Linked DNA regions of Homo sapiens: region 1 is linked to region 2. A link means that fine-mapping ties the variant in region 2 to the expression of a gene that starts in the linked region. Tissue or cell type: whole blood. Region 2 holds a variant in brackets; the other region holds the start of a gene. All regions are shown on one strand. Distances are between the middles of the regions.

Region 1 (8,102 bases), 38 kb before region 2:
TGATTCTCCTGTCAATTAACAGATATCGACTAAATGTTGAACAAATGAATAAACAAGTAAATGACTAGCAAGCCTGTGAATATTACTCAGTGCATCTGAACTATTTGGAAAGAATTTCTTACATAACCAGGATACCTAGGATGTCATAAAAATAATCATTTATAGATCTACAAGTGCTATAATATTTAGACACGGTAAAGGAGATTTCTAATATAAGAAGATATTACTTATATTCAAAAAAATTTCTACCTTAGTGTATGTGAGAAGATAGATGTAAATATTTAATACTTTGGTTTTACCTTCCTGGCCTGCTCTTCAGCTCTTTCTTTTTTAATTTTTTCCAGTTCTGCAAGAAGAGCTGCAGTATCATCATCATCACTTTCTTCTTCAAAATCTTCATCTTCCTCCTAAAAGAACAGTGAGAGCCCAGAAGATTGGAGGGAAAATACACACTACCAAAACACAGTACATATGTACAACGTATCACCCTAAGAAAGTCAAAACAATTTTATGTAGCTCAAAACAACTTTAAGCTAGCAGCAAAGATACTCAAAAGTGCAAAAAAGTGTGCTAAATTCTCAGAAGAAAATAATTTCAAATGAATAATCATTAAATTTCAGTTGAAATTAGGTTTCCTGTTTTAACTATTATGAGTAACTCCATCAATTAACTCTAGAATTAACTGCTGATATGTATACATAGTTAGATATTACTCATTGGATGCCACTCAGGTTTTTCACTGTCCTGTATGTAGAAAACTGCAAATTGATTATAGGCTCTAGGGTCCCACAGAATTTTAACATTAACTGATGTGCTAATCCTTAAAAACCTTCTGCTTAGATTACTTCCCTCCCTAAGCACAGAGGGAACCATTAAGTGTATTGCACTTATAGAAGGGGACATATCTAATATGGAAAGGCCTCCAGGTACAACTCTAGAGGGCACTGTTTATAGGAAGCCCAGTATGAAGAGTGCCCTGGAGAGGTGTGTAACACAGCAGTAGTGCAGTAGTTTAGTACAGGACATTATTTTGGGGGAAAGCATATCCTTTTATAGATTCCTTCCATATTTGGTTCTCTAGAGATCAAACTTGTTCTTAAAGTCCCACAAAATAATACTTTTGATTTTAAAATCAACTATAAAGTTTAGCACTGAGGTCAGGGCTATATTTGAATAACAGTAACTAAACATAAATATATGTCACTTCTTAAAGCAAAGACATAACAAGTATTTTAGAATAGCATGGTAAATCAATTATTAGAGATGAAAGGAGGAAACAAAACATACATCTGTTAGAGGGTCATCTGCATCAAGGTTGGCGGCAGGAATCTGGTCTAACCGTGGCTTTTTTGACACTGAAGAGGAGGTTGTATGTTCTGGGGGGAAACAAAAATCATTTAACTTAGTAAAACAAATACTTCATTTCTTAAAATGTTTTAGGGACCTGTGAGCACAAGGAGCCCACATTAAAAGCATTATCCACAGTGAACTCACATCCACAGTGCCTGGGCAAATAAGCCTTTGGTAAATATTTGTTGTTATTATCTCTAATGACCTAAGAAAGTAGTACAGCTCACATCAATCTGTAAAAGTAAACAAATGGTTAACATTTTCCAATTGCTACATAAAGAAAAACTATCAACAACATAATTTTATGAGACAAATGTCTTGGATAGTGTTGGTACCTCGGGTTGGACGATCCCTATTTTTCTCTCTTGCAGCAGCTCTCTCTCTTTCTTCCAACTCTCTCCTGAAGTCACGGTTACGAACCTCTTCAGGGGCATCCTGAGTAGTCTGTCTAAAGTAGAAACAAACCAGGGCAAAAATGTTACTTAAACACACACACACACACACACAGAGACTGTAGTAATGGAAGACAATTCAGGAATGAGACTTTGTCCTTCAAGCAGAAAAAAGGGAAGTAGACAAGATCATAATTTAATCTGAAGGTTACTAACAGCCACTCTTGTGATGTTCCCAATATTTCAAGAAGTCCAAATTCAATCACATATTTTCCTATAATAAGGCTTTACAGTGATTAAAATGTCTTTAATTTTTATTAGGATTATATCAACTCAGAACTTAACAGTAATACTTTTAATATACTGACTGGTGCTCATAGTGCATACTCTGAGGCATTATTATTTCTATTATTTATTGTTCTATCTACATATGAAAATTCCTGGTTAGTAGGAATTTCACATTTTAAAATCACAGCAGAATTTTAGTGTTAAACATCCTATTGCATTCTATTCCTATGAAAATAGATAAGTGACATAACTCAAACATACTACTATATCATGACCATGCCATTTAACAGATCTGGTCTTGTTTTGTGAACAATAAAAAAAGAAAGTCTTACTACCTGTATTTTATCTTTGTATGAGAGGGTAGGTCTCTGCTTGAATACTGCTTTGAAAGTTGGCTCAAATCACCTTCTCCTTTTCCCCTTCCACCTCTGGCAGGTTCAAAGGTTGGCCTGGCTGCTGTTGTCATCTTTTATGCTTTGAAGAAAAATATAATCAAGTTATTTCCAACATTACAAACACTCATTTTATAGAGTATTAATCAATATCCATACTGGTAAAATAAGTTCTAAAACTCATTCCCCAAAACCTGCTTAATCTTCTTAAACAAAAGTTTTCAAGAAAACAAATTATGAGGCTTAGGCTGTACAAGGAATATGGCTTCTCAGGCTTGCCTTAGTACAAAAAATTCTGTCATGAAGATCTGAGTTTGCATCCCTATTCTCCTTCTGACTATATGGGCTTGAGCAAGTCACCTGGCTTAACTTTGTCATCTGTGGAATGGAGATATTCCTCATAGATTATAAGAATTATGACACTTGACATGTCAAAACCCTAGTAAAATACAGTACTGCCATGACTGAGTTTTAAAAATTTCCAACTCAACCTTACTCTACCAGACTCTGTAAGGTTTGCATTTTATCTAAACTTCACACAATAGCAAATAGGCTAGTAGAAACAAAAGCTAAAAACAAACAAAAAATATCACTGACAAAGTTACTAAATGTCCCAGAGAAAAGTGTGTTAAACTTCAATGACAGTTACACAGAAAAAAATTCTTAAACAACCGTTTGTTGAGCCAATTTTCTCCTACAACAGGCATCATACTATAAATTAGATCGTTTGTGGGTTATAATTTAAGGCCTGTTCAAAAAAAACAGGAACCTCACCCCCAGAGGATTCTGATGCCAAAAATCAGGGACTCATTCCTCAAGTTACTTTCTGCTTGGAGCAGTCACAAGAATACTGTGCAGCAGATGCAGTCACTAAAACCCTGTTAGTGTCGGAAAAGCAAGTGTGTGGGGAGGGTGGGCGAATTGGGAGGATTTTTTGGGGGGGGGGCGATGCTAATTCTCTCAACTTTCAAAAAGGGTAGAGACATGTATACAAAGAAGAAAACAGGGTTATCTGGCGCTGGGGGCGCCGCCCCTTCCCACACACCCACGGAATTATCACTCCGGCCTCCCGTGAGCTAGTCTTTGGCTATAACCAGAAACTCGCTGCCTCTTCACCCGTGCCCAGCACTGCAGGGGTGCGAAGGGTAGTGAAGGGAGGACCTGGGGTTCGCTTTACGCAGTAGGCGAGCTGCCTGTACGCTGCGATCTCCTCGGCGGGCCCAAGAGCTCCAGACGCGCCTGACAGGCACTCGGTTCCGCCCCTAGCCCGCTGCTCCAGGGCCTCCACCGCCCGCGCTCTGCACTCTGCCGCCGACTCCGACCCCAACTGCCCTTTCCCGTCCCATCGCGATAAGAAAGATAATCTCCTATCCTCTTGCCGCTCACACTGGCCGAGGTCCGATGCAGCAGGCTCCGAAGATCATACAGACGCCATTACCACTCTTGGCTCCCAGAAACCTCTGCGCCCAGAGCTAGCGCCTACGACCCGGAAGCAAAATCCAAGCGCTTCGGGGGCGGAAGCAACGACCAATCCGCAGTGGCCGAAGTGGAAGTCGGCGTAACGGCACTAAGGGGCGGGGCCGAAGCGGCCCAGGGGGCGGGCGTTTGAAATCAGTGCCTTAGAGTAGACCCTAAACCTCATTTTATACCTTCAAGAACCAATTACTTAATGTCTCTTCCGTCTTTTCCGTCCCCGACCCCCTCCCAGACTCCTTCATTCCGGTACTGCGTGGACGGAAAGCCCCGGGTAGCCGACACCACGTCCCCGGCTAGCGGGAGAGAGCGTGGAAAAGGATTACACCAAACTGTTTAAATCCAACGACTCCTGCTTCCATCCTTTCTCCTGAGCTAGAACCAACAAACCTAGAGAGTTGGGCTTCGGAAAAACTAGTGTTTTCATTTAATTGGATATGAAGAAAGAACAAATATGTACGGGGCAACCACGATCTTTACAAAGGTACCATTCCTGCAAAAATATTAACACTTCAAAGCAAAGGTTGTATTCGTAATGTTTGCTAAAATTTCTTATTTAAAAAACGTTAGTTTTAGTGGGAGGGGAGATGTCAGTATTTACGAGAGCGTTTACAATGGTGGGCCCAACTACCAGGAGCACAAGATGTAATTATTAAGATGGCTACTTAAGTGTTAAGTTTTAATAAGACAACGAAAAGTAGAAAACCCGAAAACCAAAAACCTACCAGTCGTCTCTCCTCCCTTCCATAAAAACAAATTCTGAGAATAGAGATCTTGGTTGTTTAGCTCATCTTGGTATCTCATCACATAGACCTTGACGTATAGTAGCTGCTCAATTAATATTTGTTAAACAAATGAAAATTCAACTTCCCCAACTTAGTTTAAAATGTAAGGAACTCACAAAATTGAATATTTAAATGCTTTCTTACCCCTAAATTCTTTGCAACTTTTTAATGAAGAAAGAAAAGCAGAAAAAGCCCTTTCAGTCATAGAGTTCAAGATGAAAATCCTGATTTTTCTTACCGAAGGTATCCCTCCTCCAGTCTTAACAAGTCTCACTAAAAGACGCGATCATCATGCTAGTTACTCAAACCAAAATCCCGGAGTGCCTACTTAAATTCCTTTTCATTCACTCTTCACATACGGTTCATTTACAGGTCTTAACAATTCTACTTTTAAAACTCACCCGCAATTTTATTCTACTGCCACTACCCTTGCCTTTGCCAACACCATCTCCTACCTGGATTGTAATTGCTTCCTATTATATCTTCCTGCGTCATCTTTTATCCTACAGTCAGTGTTGCATATAGCCAAGAGAGTGATCTTTTAAAATTAATAAAATGGTGTTACTATCCTGTGTACAATTTCACTGCACTTAGAATAAAAATCACATTTCTTAATGTGACCTGAGACCCCACGGAGTCTGGTTCCTGCCTACCTTCCAGACTTCACTTCCAATCAGTCACTCGCTTACGCACTAAGCTCTAGACACAGCCAAGTGGGCATTTCTGTTTTATAAAACAGGGCAAGATTCCTTCTATTTTAGGGCCTTTGCACTAGCTTTTCTCTGTTGCCTGTGCCCCAAAGTAACTGTATCACCATCCTTCATGTCTCAGGTATCACAGTGAGGTTTTCCTACCCCCACCCCTCCAACACTTGTGTTTGTACACCATCACATCACCCTGTTTCATTTTTCATACCACTAAACATTACCAGAGTCTATTCTATTCATTTTTTATTTCCATGTCTCTCAGGAGACAGCATGCGAAGGTCATTAAGAGAAAAGGATCTTCAGCCTGCCCATTTTTGTTCTAAATTCCAGTTCTGCCCTTTCCTAGCTCTATAACCTTAGGCAAGTCATTTTCCCTTTCTGTGCTTTCAGTTTCCTCACGTGTAAAATGGGCGTAATTCTAGTCCCTAACTTGTAATACTACTCTAAGGATTAAGTGAATTAATACTTGTAAAGTGCTTAGAACTGTCTCAGCAAATAGTACTTGCTAAATAAATGTTAGCTATTATTATTATTATTAATATTATTTTTATTATTATTGTCTATCTTCCTATATTAGAACATAAGTTCCAGGAAAGCAGGAACCTTGTCTCTCTTGTTCACTGGGTGTATCCTCTGCATATAGAACAGTGCCTGGCACATAATAGGTGCTGAGTAAGTATTTGTTGAATGAATGAATGAATGAATGATGCACTATGAAGTAGAGGAATGACGTAACAATGGCAAGATGGTAACACAATTATAGGAGATACCCACAGTTTTTATGTTCCAACTGTCCTCATTAGCCTGGAGTGAATCACTTCATTGATTTAACTCCCAGCCCACTAACCTAATCTTTTGGTTGCCAGTGGTGATAAATAGCCACCCTATAATTTCATTAACACCAATATACAATATAGTCAATCCACAAAATTAAAAGCTTTTGACTTAAATGAAAGTGCTAATAAGAAAATGAAACTAAAGCTTTTGACTTAAATGGTTTGAAAGTATTAAGAAAAAGAAACTTAAGTTTACTAAAATCTTGAAATTCATCTGATCAGTTAACCTAGCTGGCAAAAATCATATAACCTCCCAAGAATTCTTATGTTAAACCTGTTACCACAAAATCTAGTTTGGCCCTTAATTCTGCCTGCCAGTCCTCTTATGCTCTCCTAATTGTTTATTTTCCCCCTCTACAATAATATAATTTCCCACATTCCCCTTTCTTCAAGTCTACATGCCTCTTTCACCTCCTTTTCCCTCTGCATTCTCTTTCCTGGCAGTAGATCTTCTCAGTTCTCTGAGAAAACAGAAGCTCTTAAACAAGGACTTCTCATCTCCTTTTTTCCGCAGATCTATCGAGCTGCCTTTGGCTATTCCTGTATCCTCAGATTCTCATTATTACTGGAGATGAGGTGACCCACACTCTCCCTTGTGCTCTGGGTCCTAATTCCTCCAGGTTTCTTAGTGGCTGGCATTTTGCTATATATTTTCTCTTTCTTATGATCTATGAGGCCATCCCTTTCAGATCATTTTTATCAGCTTTTGGACATGGTATAGTATATCTTAACCTTAAAAAAGGCTCTTTCATTTTAGTATGCCAAAGGTAGCATTTAATTAAATGTGAAAGGGATGTAGTTTGGCCCTTGATTGCAAAACTTTCTATTTTTATGGCAGGAGTAGCATAGGAATTCCAGTTTAAAGCTTAAACAAAATCAACACCTAAAAGGGAAAATAGAAACCATAAAAACCTAAGAAGAAAATTTAAGAAACTATTTATAGAACCTAGAATTTGGAAAGACCTTTCAATCAAAGCAGAACACCTTAAGAGCTTTAAAAGAAATACTTTTAAAAATTCATTTATCCAACAATTAATTTTATAGCTGTAGATGCCAAAAACAAGTCAATAAATTCTAGATTCGCAAATAAATTTTGTAATGCCTATAACATATAAAGGATTACTGCTACTGCTAGTGATACACATAATATAAAAATCACAAATTACCCAATTAAAAAATGGACAAAAGATATAAGCAGGCCATTCAGAAAAAGCAATTTCAAATAGACAAGTCAATAAACATGAAAGACACTCAACCTTCTAATGAGGAAAATGAAAGTAAACTAAAAATGGATTATCACATTACAGCATCCGATTGGCAACAATTAAAAAAATTAATAACATAGTTGGATGGGATTGAGAGAAAAGGGGATCCAGTCAGACAGCGGGGGGCATTGGTCCCCCATTACCCTCACAGTAAAAGCCAAGGTGTTCACAATGGTTTCCAAAGTTTTCTATGGTCTACCCTTTCCCCTACCTCTTTGACCTCATCACTTGCTCATGCTTTTCATGGCTACCTCCTTCATATTGTTGCTTGGACACGCACACAGCTGCTCCTGCTTTAGGGCCCTCACACTAGCTATTTTCTCTGCCAAGGCTATTCTTTCCTGTCTTACTCAAGTCTTTGTTCAAATGGAGTCCAACGAACCTTGGGCATCTCTACTTAAAATTGCAACTGTTCTCCCTCTCTGTCCCCTAACATTCTGTACTCCGTATCTCCCTTCCCCTCTTTCTTCTTTTTATCTTTTAAAATTATATTATATATAATTACATGGCATTTATCATCTTCCATGACCCTATATAATTTAGTTATGTTACATTTATTGTCTCTTTCTCTACTTCTCCCATGTAGAATATAAGTTCTAAAAGGGCAGAGATCT
Region 2 (8,110 bases):
GGATAAAGTAGACACTTTCTTTTCCAGTGGCATGACTGTTTACAATAAAGTCACACATACCAGGGCACAGGGATTTTTTAGTTTAGAAATCCTTGGTTTTGGTTCAAAATATGTACAAGAACCCTCTTGGACACTGTAGCTATTGAAGCTGTAAAAACATGCACCTGTTTGCCTTTTGTAAGGAGGCAACTTTTGATACATTTAATCTTTTAGATGCCAATGAAATAAATAAAAATGCCCAATAGTTTGCAAATCTTTTCTCCCATTCTGTAGGATTAATTTCAAAAGATACAGAAAAGCACTCAATTAAATTCAACAGGGTGTCTCTTCAGTTTGTTAATTGTTTCCTTTCCTATGCAGGAGCTTTTTAATTTGATATAACCTCATTTGTCTACTTTTGCTTTAGTTGCTTGTGCTTTTAAGATCTTACTCAGGAAATTTTTGCCCAGACCAATGTTCCAAAGTATTTCTCCAATTTTTTTCTAGTAGTTTTATAGTTTCAGGTCACACATTTAAGTCTTTAATCCATTTTGATTTGATTTTTGTGTATGGTGAGAGATGGGGCATAATTTCAATCTTCCACTTTTGGATATCCAGTTTTCCCAGCACCATTTATTGAAGAGTGTGTTCTTTCTCCAATGCACATTCTTATTGCCTTTGTTGAAAATGAGCTGGCTGTAAGTGCATAAATTTATTTCTGCATTCTCTATTGTGTTCTATTCGTTTGTATGTCTGTTTTTATACCAGTACCATGCTGTTTTGGTTACTATCCCTTTGTAGTATATTTTGAAGTCAAGAAATGTGATGCCTCCAGCTTTGTTCTTTTTGCTCAGAATTGCTTTGACTATTGGGTGTCTTTTGTGGCTCCATATAAATTTTAGGATTTTTTTTCTATTTCTCTGAAGAATATCACTGGTATTTTGAAAGGGATTGCAGTAAAGCTGTAGATCCCTTTGGGTAGCATGGACATTTTAGTAATATTAATTATTCTAATCCATGAACATGAAATATCTTTCCATTTTTTGTGTCCTGTATTTTTTTATCAGTGTTTTATAGTTTTAATTGTAGCGATCTGTCACTTCTTTGGTTAAATTTATCCCTAGGTATTTTATTTTATTTTTTGCAGCTATTGTAAATGGAACTGTTTTCTTGATTTCTTTTTCAGATTGTTTGCAGTTAGCGTATAGAAATGCTACTGATTTTTGCACGTTGATTTTGTATCCTGGAACTTTATTGAATTCATTTGTCAATTCAAACAGTTTTTTGGTGGTCTTTAGTTTCTTCTAAATAAAAGAGTATATAATCTGGAAACAAGGACTATTTGACTTCTTCCTCTCCAATACAAATGCCCTTTATTTCTTATTCTTGTCTAATAGCTGTAACTAGGATTTCTAGTACTATAAAGAATAAAAGTGGTGGAAGTGGGCATCCTTGTCTTGTTCCAGATCTTAGAGAAAAGGCTTTTAGCTTTTTCCCATTAAGTATGATGCTATCTGTGGCTTTGTCATATATGGCCTTGGGATGTTGAATTTTATTTAATGCTTTTTCTGTACCTTTTGAAATTAACCTTTGCTTTTCTAATGTGCCTCAAAATTGAAAAACTTTATCTGAATTAAAACTTCCCCACTGTGGCCACAGTAACCCTAACTTACCTTTGGTAAGGTTCATCCATTTATCTATAAAAGCATTCTTGTACTGTATATAAAATTAACTGGAGTTACAGATGGAGGAATTCTTGACTTTTTAGATTCATATGAACTCATGATTCCTGGTCTGCTAGGACAGAGAGTTCTAGACTCCTTAATCCAAATGAACTCCCTATCTTGTAGTCCAGTTTCTGTCTGATCTAGACACTGCAAACCCCAAAGGTTATATGCCTTCTTACAGCACAAGATAATCCTTGGTACCCAGCTCAAGTTCACGTGCTCTCTCATAGCACAAATTAACCTCGGATTTGGGCTCAAGGCAAAAAGAAAGATCCTTTATTCATGATTCTAGAATCAACTTCCAAATCTAGTCCAGATCAAAACTTTGCTCAAAGATAGCTCAAAGCACAAATCTGTGGAGCTTTGGAATCCAAGAGAGAACTTACTCATGAGCCCCAGATGCAGCAAGGAAAAAATAAGCACAGTGCAGGTAACTATACCTGGTTACCCAGTGCCCCTGGCAATCACTGGAGTTCTGCTTCAGATCCCGCTGACCACGCCAATCTGTTAAAAGAAAAAAAACCCTTAGACTTAAATTTACCGGAGTTTATTTGAGTAAAACAAAATAAAACAATACAAAAAACAATTCTCAAATTGGACAGCCCCCAAAACCAAAACAGGTTCAGAGGACTCTGGCCAAAAAAGTGATCTGGCAGCATTTAAACAGAAGTGAGGTATAGAGACAACTTAATTAGTTATAACTTAGTTGGTTAATTGGTTACAGAACCTTCTGTGATTAACTGAAGCTCAGCTATCATGATAAAACTCTATATTGGTTTGGTCTGTTGAGTCTTGTGCAGGAGCCCAGTCCAAATCCTCTTAGAATTTTATTTGACAGGTATATATCCAAAGGAAATGAAAGCAGCACGTTGAAGAGATAACGGCACACCTATGTTCATTTTCATTGCAGCATTTTTCACAATAGCCAAGATATGGTGTCAACCTGTGTCTCTCAGTGGATGAATGAATGGATAAAGAAACTGTGGCATATGTATAAAATAGAATTCTATTCAGCCTTAAAAAGATTGAAATCCTGTCATTTGCAACAACATCAATGAACCTGAAAGACATTATGCTAAGTTAAATAAGTCACACAGGAGAACAAATACTGCGTGAACTCATTTATATGTGGGAGCAAAGAGTCAAACTCATAGAAGCAGAGAGTTTAATAGTAGTTATCAGAAGCTGAAGGGTGGGAACATTGAGGAGATGTTCGTCAATGGGTACAAAATTTTAGTTTGAGAGGAGCAGGTTCTGGAGATTTATTATACAGCATGGTGACTATAGTTAATCATAATGTATTGTGCACTTTACAATTGCTAAGAGGGTAGATTTGTGCTCTCACTATAAAAGATATGTGAGATAATGCATATGTTAATTAGCTTTATTGACTTATTCCACAGTGTATACACATATCAAACTGTCATGTTGCACACCATCAATATACACAATTTTTATATGTCATTTGAAGAAAACAATTTAAAAAGGAGCAGGGTATTATTCTCCCTATTATTTAGGGTATAGCATTTATATAATTTATTTGGAATTCTGCTACAAGATAGATTTGTCTCTTTTCTTCAATTTGTCAATTTATTCAATCATTTATATCAGTATGAACTCA[T/C]AGATATTTATTTTGTACTTTTGATTATAATTCAAGATGACTTTTTTTTTTTTTTTTGCTAAGTTTCTTCAAGCTTTGGCCATTGGGAGCTGTTTCTGTTCATTCCTGTGCCCCGTTGCCGTACCCCCATCAAGGTTTTTGTTTGCTTGTATTTAAAACATCCTTGTTTTCAAGCACTTCAAGATATCCCAGACTTGTCCAGTACATTTCCTTTCCTCGGTCTAGAAATTTCTTTTTCTCCATCAGTATTGCCAATTCTTTATTTTATTTTTCTTTAAAGGCATCAGATTTCAGTACCTTAATCATCTCTTTTTTTGTGTATCTTTGTTTTCTCTTTTGTTTATCATTCTGTCATTATTTTAATCTTTCATTTTTATTGCCTAATTCTGTTTTTTTTGGTTTTGGTTTTTACTAACTGCTGAGTTGAGCATCGAGATGAATAGACTTTTACAAACACGGATATTAATTTTGAAATAAATATGGTTGGGTTCAACTCCTTTTTGCTGACTTTAAATTATATTTAATTGTGGTCAAGATTGTGCTCAATATACTGATTGTATGGAATTTTAATTGATATTTATTTTGTACCCCGAATTGCTAAATTTTTGTAAATGTTTTATATCTGTTGTAAAGCATTTCTCTTTGCTTTATGGTGGTGGTGAGTCATATGATCAAAGTTGTTAAGTTTGTTCAAACTCTTATAGCATTATTAATTTTCTTCTCTCCTTTGTCACTTTCAGAGAGAATGGTGTTAAAGAAAAATCAAAACTCCTGCCATAATTGCAGAATCATCAGTTTTACCTTGTAATTCTCAGGATTCACTTTCTATGACTCAATGCCATATGGTTAGGTGTATGATGTTCATCACTGTAATATGTTTCTAGTGAAGTTTTCTTTTTGATAGTTATAAAATGTGCCACTTTGATCCTATAAATACATTGCTATCCCAGGTTTCTTTTTTTAATATTTGTCCTGTTGTGCCTTTTTCAACCTCTTAATTTTCAGCCTCTTAGTTAACTCTGTTTTAAAATTGCTTTTTAAAAAAGGACCTTTATAAGTCAAATCAGGAAACTAGCCCTTGGGTGAAGGACATCAGTTTCGTGACCCTGCTATGGATCGATTACAGCAAAGTGGCCTCCAGTGTGGCTGCCAGGGGACGAGGGTGACTTTTTCCCATGGACGTCTTTGTGCACATCCTGTAAACCGAGCCCTATGAGCTGCGGAAACACAGGCAAGACCAGGCAATTGTGGACCACATGGAGCCCAGGGCACTAGACAGCCAGCAGCTGAGCACCTAGAGGGAGGCCCAGTTGACCAGGAGAGCCGTGTTAGGCCTGAGGCATCTCCCTCTTCACTGAGCTCAAAGCCCCAGTTTGCCTGTGGCCGTGGGTGCCGTTATGTGCTCTCCACGCCTCCGTCCTTCAGTGGCCCTAGGGGCTGCTTCCCATAGCGAGGTCACCATGACCTGCAGCTCCCAGAAGCCTGGCTGGATCCCATTGCTGACCCTCATTCTGTCCACCCCAGATCTTCATCCCCAAACTGGCAGACATGGTCGTGGTCATAGTCGTTGTGCTCTGGAACTGGGGGCTCAGGAGCCGACCATTCTGGCTTAGGCCAGGAGGCCCCTCTTGGTGGGCACAGTGCACTTAGTTCTGGGCCCTGAGCCTCATCCGCTGTATACAGATGAAGCTTTGATGGACAAAGTTGCACCTTTGAACTTGGGGCTTCAGCATCTTGCCAAGGCTTCTGGGTGCTGCTGTGCCCCTGATCATCAACCCTTGGGGTCCCCACTGAATCATGATGAACCCATGCACCCTGGCCCCTATGCCTGCTAACCCAGGGTAGCACCACTCAGAATCTCTCTGACATTGTTCCCCTGACTCCTCCCAATGTCATTGTGTCTTTGAATAAGTTCTGCAGGGATGCTGCTCCAGATTGCACAGCCCCTGTGAATCTGGATGAGACTGAAGCAATGGACCACTCATGCCTCTAGGATCCTGGCCCCTACTGAGGTTGCCAGAATCTCCTAAGCCCCTGACTCATCTCCTGGTGCTAAAGGTAGACAGAGCTGCACCTCAGAATTTGGAGATATTTGCCTTCAATGCAAGATCTCAATCATCTGAACCCATGACTGTTGAATATGTTGCCAAATGTGGCTGCCCCTCTGACCTCAACTACAGAAGCCACAGAAGGCTCCCAGCCAAGCACAGTTCGGGTCTGGACCTGTGTATTAGATTCTTCGACCTTCAAGAACTGACACATTTTCAAGGTTACCAAATGCTGCCTCCTGTTTGTTAAATTTGACACTCCTAGTGTGTATCTGACATGTAAAAAAAGGAAAATCCTGAAAACATATTTTAAAATCACAATTATAAAAGAGATATATCTAAAACTAAGTGATTCAGAAAAATTGAAAACTAAAAGAATGGGGGAAACTGTACCAAGGAAAATGCAAAAGCAAAAGGAAACAGAGGTGGTAGATCTTAATATCAAACAAATGTAGACCAAAGGGACATAGAAGGACTCTTTATAATACTAAAGGCTAAATTTCACAATGAAAATACAGCCTTTATAAATAGCCATGCAACTTTTTCTTCCATTAAACTTTTAATTATTTTTGTTTTGGTATAGTATACATGTATAAATTACAATTTTCACCATTTTAAGTGTATAGTTTAGCTGCTTTAAGGACATTCCCATCGTTGTACAACCATCAACACCTTCTATCTCCAGAACGTTTTCATCATCACAGACTAGTACTCTACCCATTAAACAGTAACACCTCATTATAGCCTGCCCTGGCTGCTGGTATCCCTTGTTTTATTTCTCTAATAATTTCAGTATTTTAGGTACCTCATGTAAGTGCAATGATACAATATTTGTCCTTTCATGTCTAGCTTATTTGACTTAGCATGATGTCCTCCAGGTTCAACTACGTTGCAGCATGTGTCAGATTTCCTTCCTTTTCAAGGCTGAATAATATTCCACTGTAGGTATATACCACATTTTGTTGATCAGTTCTTCCACTGATGAACACTTATGTGGTTTCCACCTTTTGGCTCTGTGCATGGTGCTGTTATGAACACTGGTGTAAACATATCTTCATGTGTCCCTGGTAAAACCATTTAATCACCTTTTAGAGTAGGTTACACATTCTTCATTGAACATCATTAATACCCCTGTGCGTCTGCCTTGATTGGAGATCTGATTAAATACCTGCAGTAAATCAGTTTTTAATGTCATCTGAAATTCAAAAATTGTAATTAAATTTAATTAAAATTTTAGATTAAAACTTGTGTCACTTCTCCTGAATTTTAAGAGACTACTGACAGCTGCATACCAAATATATGCACACCAGCATCTATTACTATTTCAGGGAATTCATGGATCTCTCAGTTCTATCCTAAGTCCCAGGTTTAGGAGTCTAAAGTTTCTCTCAGTATCCCCTTATCACGGATGTCTCCTTGGCTTTGAAACAGCGTTTTCAGTCTTCACATAATCTGCAGAGTTTGGGGAGAGTTGTGCTCCATATCTTTTTATTCCTGCTGGCAGTAACTCACTATGGGCACAACATGGCTCTGTGGGAAGCTGGGCATGGTGACCAGGTGGCTGTGTGAAGCCAGGAAGCTCTTGCCAAACTCACAGCCAGCACTGTACATGCACTGAAGCTCACGGGATCCCTTTACCTGGCACAGGACGGGCAGTGCAAAGCTTGTGTGCTTCTGTCAGAGTGAGCGTGGGTGGGTAGTGGGCACTGCTTCTAGTGGGCTTCCTTCTTCATGGCCTTCTGGTCTCAGAGGCTGCCAAAGTCCTGACTGAATCCACATAGGGTGAGCGCTTGCACAGAGAATCCAGAGGCGGGTGTCCAAGGCCCCTGTGCTGGGCTCGAGCAGTGCTTGGGAGACGGTTACCCACGGAGCTTTCCGTGCTGGGCTTGTCTTTCTAGGGGGAAAACAGGAGGGGCGGGCATGGGCTGCAGGGTCCAAAGTGGAATTTACCACAGTTGGAAAAGAAAGTTCTGGTAAAGTATTATTTCTTTTCTCTTTTATGGTATAGGGCTCTCCTTTTTATGGTACAGATTTAGGCCAGAAATTTGAGATCCAGCCTAGAACCCATGTGAGTTTCATTAAGTATAAATTGCAGTTTCTATAAGACAAGTTTGAGTAGTACTTTTAAAACAGAAGAATTTAAGTAACTTTACTGTACTGAAGACAGAAAAAAAGGACAAATGTAGGGATATAGAAAACAAACAACATTAACCATAAGGTAGAATTATGTACCCAGTAATAGAGAATATCCCCTTATTTTCAAGTACCAATGGATAATTCACAACATTTGACAATATATTAGGGTTAAAAGAAAACATGAATAACTTATAATTTCAAAAGAATAAGAAAATATATATATTTTTTGAGACAGGATCTCGTTCTGTCACCCAGGCTGGAGTGCAGTGGTACAATCTCAGCTCACTGCAACTTCTGCCTCCCAGTTCAAGCAATTCTCCTGCCTCAGGCTCCCGAGTGAGTAGCTGGGATTACAGGCATGTGCCACCACGCCCAGCTAATTTTTTGTAGTTTTAGAACAAACAGGGTTTCACCATGTTGGCCAGGCTGGTCTCGAACTCCTGACTTCAGGTGAACTGCCCATCTCGGCCTCCCAAAATGCTGGGACTACAGGTGCGTGCCACTATGCCCAGCTAATTTTTGTATTTTTAGCAGAGATGGAATTTCGCCATTTGCCCAGGCTGGTCTCGAACTCCTGACCTCAGGTGATCTGCCTGTCT

What was found. PIP is the estimated chance that this variant, and not a neighbour inherited with it, causes the effect.
Region 1: CWC15 starts here. The variant in region 2 is fine-mapped to the expression of CWC15 in whole blood (INTERVAL, PIP 0.97).

The regions. Positions count from the first base shown.
Region 1 is chr11:94,969,690-94,977,791 of GRCh38, forward strand. CWC15 (CWC15 spliceosome associated protein) reads right to left here and starts at 3,867. Exons shown (of 7, transcript NM_016403.4): 1 at 3,809-3,867; 2 at 2,366-2,504; 3 at 1,686-1,798; 4 at 1,288-1,376; 5 at 300-407. The coding sequence starts at 2,496. It overlaps KDM4D (lysine demethylase 4D), which reads left to right and starts at 4,020. Exons shown (of 3, transcript NM_018039.3): 1 at 4,020-4,379; 2 at 5,965-6,059. RefSeq lists enhancers at 3,144-3,919, 3,634-3,803, 4,124-4,273.
Region 2 is chr11:95,007,440-95,015,549 of GRCh38, forward strand. It overlaps the pseudogene LOC100420801. Among named protein-coding and RNA genes, the nearest start is that of KDM4E, 14 kb to the right of the region's middle. The variant T/C (reference allele first, on the strand shown) is at 3,328.